Linked DNA regions of Homo sapiens: region 1 is linked to region 2. The links come from fine-mapping of genetic effects on gene expression. Tissue or cell type: whole blood. Region 2 holds a variant in brackets; the other region holds the start of a gene. All regions are shown on one strand. Distances are from middle to middle.

The links. PIP is the estimated chance that this variant, and not a neighbour inherited with it, causes the effect.
Region 1: DYNLT2B starts here. The variant in region 2 is fine-mapped to the expression of DYNLT2B in whole blood (TOPMed, PIP above 0.99).

The regions. Positions count from the first base shown.
Region 1 is chr3:196,317,001-196,319,740 of GRCh38, reverse strand. DYNLT2B (dynein light chain Tctex-type 2B) reads left to right here and starts at 1,501. Exons shown (of 5, transcript NM_152773.5): 1 at 1,501-1,701. The coding sequence starts at 1,589. The region is part of intron 5 of TM4SF19-DYNLT2B (TM4SF19-DYNLT2B readthrough (NMD candidate)); the gene reads left to right. It overlaps TM4SF19-AS1 (TM4SF19 antisense RNA 1), which reads right to left and starts at 1,409. Exons shown (of 2, transcript NR_046724.1): 1 at 1,304-1,409. LOC107986031 (a long non-coding RNA gene) reads left to right here and starts at 2,150. Exons shown (of 2, transcript XR_001740547.2): 1 at 2,150-2,740. RefSeq lists an enhancer at 1,572-1,671 and a silencer at 1,732-1,981.
Region 2 is chr3:196,265,403-196,267,902 of GRCh38, reverse strand. The region is part of intron 2 of PCYT1A (phosphate cytidylyltransferase 1A, choline); the gene reads left to right. Among named protein-coding and RNA genes, the nearest start is that of PCYT1A, 21 kb to the left of the region's middle. The variant G/A (reference allele first, on the strand shown) is at 1,292.

The sequences.
Region 1 (2,740 bases), 52 kb before region 2:
CATCCTGGCTCAGCCCTATTCTGATGGGTCAGCAGGACCCCAAGGAGAGAAGGGTGGGTCCTTGGCACTAAGACAGTTCACAGTGGTTAGCTGACTCCTTCTTGCCTCCATTCTTTCAGGAACTGCATATAGTACAGAACATGACAGCGATTCGAAAAACAATATCCCAGCTGGCTGTGATGGCTCATGCCTGTAGTCCCAGCACTTCGGAAGGCTGAGGTGGGATAATCACTTGAGCCCAAGAGTTCAATAGTAGCCTGGGCAGCATAGCCAGATCCTATCTCTACAAAAATTAAAAAGATTAGCCACGCGCGGTGGCATTCGCCTGTAGTTCCAGGTACTCCAGAGGCTGAGGTGGGAGGACTGCTTGAGTCCAAGAGGTCGAGGCTGAAGTGAGCGGTGAGTGTGCCACTGCACTCCAGCCTGAGAAACAGAGCAAGACCCTGTCTCAAGTGGGAAAAAAAAAAAAAGGAATCCCTGCCCTTTCAGCCTCTCCTGTAAACAGGGATTACAGGCACGAGCTACCTCATCGGGCCTTAGTTTTTGAAGCTAGCAGAGGCCAAGATACAACAGCCTTCTAAAACAGGACCAGGGACTGGTGCTTATAAGCAGGGAATGCGGCAGAGTACGATGGCTCACGCCTGTCATCCCAGCACTTCGGGAGACCGAGGTGGGCGATCACCTGAGGTCAGGAGTTGGAGACCAGCCTGGCCAATATGGTGAAACCCCGTCTCTAATAAAAATACAAAAAAAATTAGCCGGTCGTGGTGGGGCGCGCCTGTAATCCCTGCTGCTTGGGAGGCTGAGGCAGAATTGCTTGAACCTGGGAGGTGGAGGTTGCAGTGAGCCGAGATCGCGCCTCTGCACTCCAGCCTGAGTGACAGAGCGAGACTTCGTTTAAAAAAATAAAAATAAATATATATTTTTAAAAGCGGGGAATGCAGCCTAAGTCTCTTTCCTTCCTTCCTTTTTTTTTTTTTTTCTTTTTTTGAGACGCAGTCTCGCTCTGTCGCCAGGCTGGAGTGCAGTGGCGCGATCTCGGCTCACTGCAACCTCGGCCTCCTGGGTTCAATAGATTATTCTGCCTCAGCCTCCAGAGCAGCTGGGGTTACAGGCACGCGCCACCACGCCCGGCTAATTTTTGTATTTTCAGTAGAGATGGGGTTTCACCATGTCGGCCAGGATGGTCTTGAACTCTTCCTGACTCAGGTGATCCGCCCGCCTCGGCCTCCCAAAGTGCTGGGATTGCAGGCCTGAGCCCCCGCACCCGGCCGCCGCAATTACTTCTGCACCAGCCTAATACCTCAAGTCCAGGAGCCTCAGGCCCCGCGTCTATTTCCTCCGACTGCGGCGCGGCTGATACTGCCTGAGGCGGGTGGAAGCTGTCGCGCGTCCGGACGCGACCAGTTCCCGCCCAGCAGCCGGTGCGCAGGCGCGGGCAGGGAGGGCGGCTGTGCGGGGCGCTCGCGGGCTTCAGCGAGGCGGGAGGGCGGCCCTGTTGCCCTGGAGACGCTTTCCCTGCTGCCGGCCGCGACCGCAACCCGCTAGGCCTTCATCGCGAGCTACGCCCGGACCGAGAAGCCCCGGCATGGCCACGTCCATCGGAGTGTCCTTCTCGGTGGGCGACGGGGTGCCTGAGGCTGAGAAGAACGCAGGGGAGCCCGAGAACACCTATATTCTGCGGCCTGTTTTCCAGCAGAGGCGGGTAGAGGACGGGCTGTGGCGGGGCGACCTCGAGCGCGCTGGTCTGAGGGGCGGAGCTCGCCTGGGACCTGGGCCACGGAAGGAGCGCGGGGGACGCGCGGGGTCCGCGGGGCGGGAGGCGGGAGGCCGCGAGGCGGGCGGGCGGCCCTGCTGTGACGTCCGGGCGCCCCTCCCGCTGCAGGGGCCGCAGGGGACCCCACCCGCTTCCTCAGTGTTTGGGCGCCGGGCGCGTCTTAGGGTGGCGCGGCGGGAATGGTTGGCCCTGGGAAACCCGCGATGGCGTCCTGAGTAAGGAGATGGGTAGAATAGAGGCAGGAAGCCACTCGCGTCGGATGCCGTTCAGCCGTGATTCGAGGGTGACTGTGCACACGGGTGCCAGGATGGGCTCACTCCCGGCGCGGGAGCTGCATCTGTGCGAAGTCCTACCCGGGTGGGATCTGGAGGCCCTTAGACCACCGCAGCGAGCCCTCGCTAGGATTAAGGCTCACGGGCCAGAGCAGAGGGTACTCAGCTAGGTTTGTGAGATCACTAACTTTACACACACACACACACACACACACACACACTGAAAAAAATATCAGGCTCACGGGCCAGAGCAGAGGGTACTCAGCTAGGTTTGTGAGATCACTAACTTTACACACACACACACACACACACACACACACACTGAAAAAAATATCAGGCTCACGGGCCAGAGCAGAGGGTACTCAGCTAGGTTTGTAAGATCACTAACTTTACACACACACACACACACAACACACACACACACTGAAAAAAAATGTCAGGCTCACGGGCCAGAGCAGAGGGTACTCAGCTAGGTTTGTAAGATCACTAACTTTACACACACACACACAACACACACACACACACACACACACACACTGAAAAAAAATGTCAGGCTCACGGGCCAGAGCAGAGGGTACTCAGGTTTGTAAGATCACTAACTTTACACACACACACACACACACACACACCACACACACACCACACAACACACACACACACACACACACACTGAAAAAAATGTCAGGCTCAC
Region 2 (2,500 bases):
TCTAGCTCTGAATCTCCTTTGAACTCTATAACAAAAGCAAGCAAGACTTTTTTCTTTTTTTAACAGCTTTATTGAGTTATAATTGACATATCATTTACAGTATACAATTCAGTGGTTTTCAGTTTATTCACAGAGTTGTGCAACCATCACCATGACCAATTTTAGAATTTTTTTCTTTTTTTTTTTGAGACAGGGTCTTGGTCTGTTACCCAGGCTGCAGTGCAGTGGTGTGATCATAGTTCACTGCAGCCTCAACTTTCTGGGCTCAAACAGTCCTCTCACCTCAGCCTCCCAAGTAGCTGGGAATATAGGTGCACATCACCATGCTTGGCTAATTTTTAAATTTGTTTTTGTAGGGATGGGGTCTCACTATGTTACCCAGACTGGTCTCAGTCTCCTGGATCAAGCGATTCTCCTGCCTCAGCCTGCCACAGTGTGGGATTACAGGTGTGAGCCACCATGCCTGGCCTGGGATATTTTTATCACCCCAGAAAGAAGGCCTGTACTCATTAGCAGTCACTCCCCATTTCCCCCCAGTCTCTCCAGCCTCTGGAAGCCACTAATCTGCTTTCTGATTCTGTGGATTTGCCTGTTCTGGACATTCATACAAATGACATCATACGGTATGTGGTCTTTGGGGCTGGCTTCTTTCACTGAGCTTGTTTTGAAGATTCATTCGTACTGCAACATGTACAAGTACTTAATTTTTTTTTTTTTTTTTTTTGAGACTGAGTCTCGCTCTGTCGCCCAAGCTGGAGTGCAGTGGCGCAATCTCGGCTCACTGCAACCTCCGCCTCCTGGGTTCAAGTGATTCTCCTGTCTCACCCTCCCGGGTAGCTGGGATTACAGGCGCCAGCCACCACATCCGGCTGATTTTTTTTAATTTTTATTTTTGGTAGAGACGGGGTTTCACCATGTTAGCCAGGATGGTCTCGATCTCCTGACCTCAGGTAATCCGCCCGCCTCGGCCTCCCAAAGTACTGGGATTATAGGCGTGAGCCACCGTGCCCGGCAATTTTTTTTTTTGAGACAGAGTCTCACTCTGTTGCCCAGGCTGGAATGCAGCGGTGTGATCTCGGCCTCCCAGGTTCAAGTGATTCTCCTGCCTTAGCCTCCTGAGTAACTGGGACTACAGGCATGCGCCGCCACCACGCCTGGCTAATTTTTGTATTTTTAGTAGAGATGGGGTTTTACCATGTTGCTCAGGCTGGTTTCAAACTTCTGACCTCAAGTGATCCGCCCACCTCAACCTCCCGAAGTGCTGGGATTACAGGTGTGGGCCACCACGTCC[G/A]GCCAGTACTTCATTTTTTTTTTATTGACAAATAACATTCCATCATATATCACATACTACTTTTTAGTTATTCATTCTCCAGTTGACATTTGGGTTGAGTAAGCAAGATTTTCTTGCATTTTTATTTATTTATTTTTTTGAGATGGAGTCTTGCTCTGTCGCCCAGGCTGGAGTGCAGTGGCCTGATCTCGGCTCACTGCAAGCTCCGCCTCCTGGGTTCACGCCATTTTCCTGCCTCAGCCTCCCGAGTGGCTGGGACTACAGGCGCCCGCCACCAAGCCTGGCTAATTTTTTGTATTTTTTAGTAGAGACGGGGTTTCACCGTGTTAGCCAGGATGGTCTCGATCTCTTGACCTCGTGATCCGCCCGCCTCGACCTCCCAAAGTGCTGGGATTACAGGCGTGAGCTACTGCACCTGGCCTTTATTGCATATTTACAATGCGCTAGTATGGCAGTAGGTGGTAGACGTGTAAAGATAAACAAGACCTTCCTTTTATGAGATGTGAGCATAGAGTAGAATTCTATAGCCTAGAGCTCATTAGTTTATTTATTTTTTTTTAATGGGCACTTGCAGGCCAGGCACAGTGGCTCACGCCTGTCATCCCAGCACTTCGGGAGGCTGAGGTGGGCGGATCACCTGAGGTCAGGAGTTCGAGACCAGTCTGGCCAACATGACGAAACCTCGTCTCTACTAAAAATACAAAAATTAGCTGGGCGCAGTGGTGGGCGCCTGTAGTCCCAGCTACTCAGGAGGCTGAAGCAGGAGAATGGCGTGAACCCAGGAGGCGGAGTTTGCAAGTGAGCTGAGATCGCGCCACTGCACTCCAGCTTGGGCGACAGAGCGAGACTCCGTCTCAAAAAAGAAAAAAAAAGGGTAGGGGGACTTGCTCTGTTGCCCTGGGCTCAAGCTATCCGCCCACCTCTGCCTCCCTAAGTGCTGAGATGACAGGCGTGAGCCACCACACCCGGTGGAGCTCATTAGCTTTAGAAAAAGTACTTTCCTTGCATGTAAAGAAAGGAATAGGAAGGATCACCAAGTAGTAGATACCTGGGTTGGTGGGTCAGGATGAAATGGATAGAAAAGAGACAAAGGAGTTAAGAAGGAAAAACTAGGAAAAACTTTATGGCTATTTTGTCGATAAGTATAAATCATTTATTGATACAGATGTTTCTAAAGGTTCAATCAAAAGGATCACAAAAGTATTTACA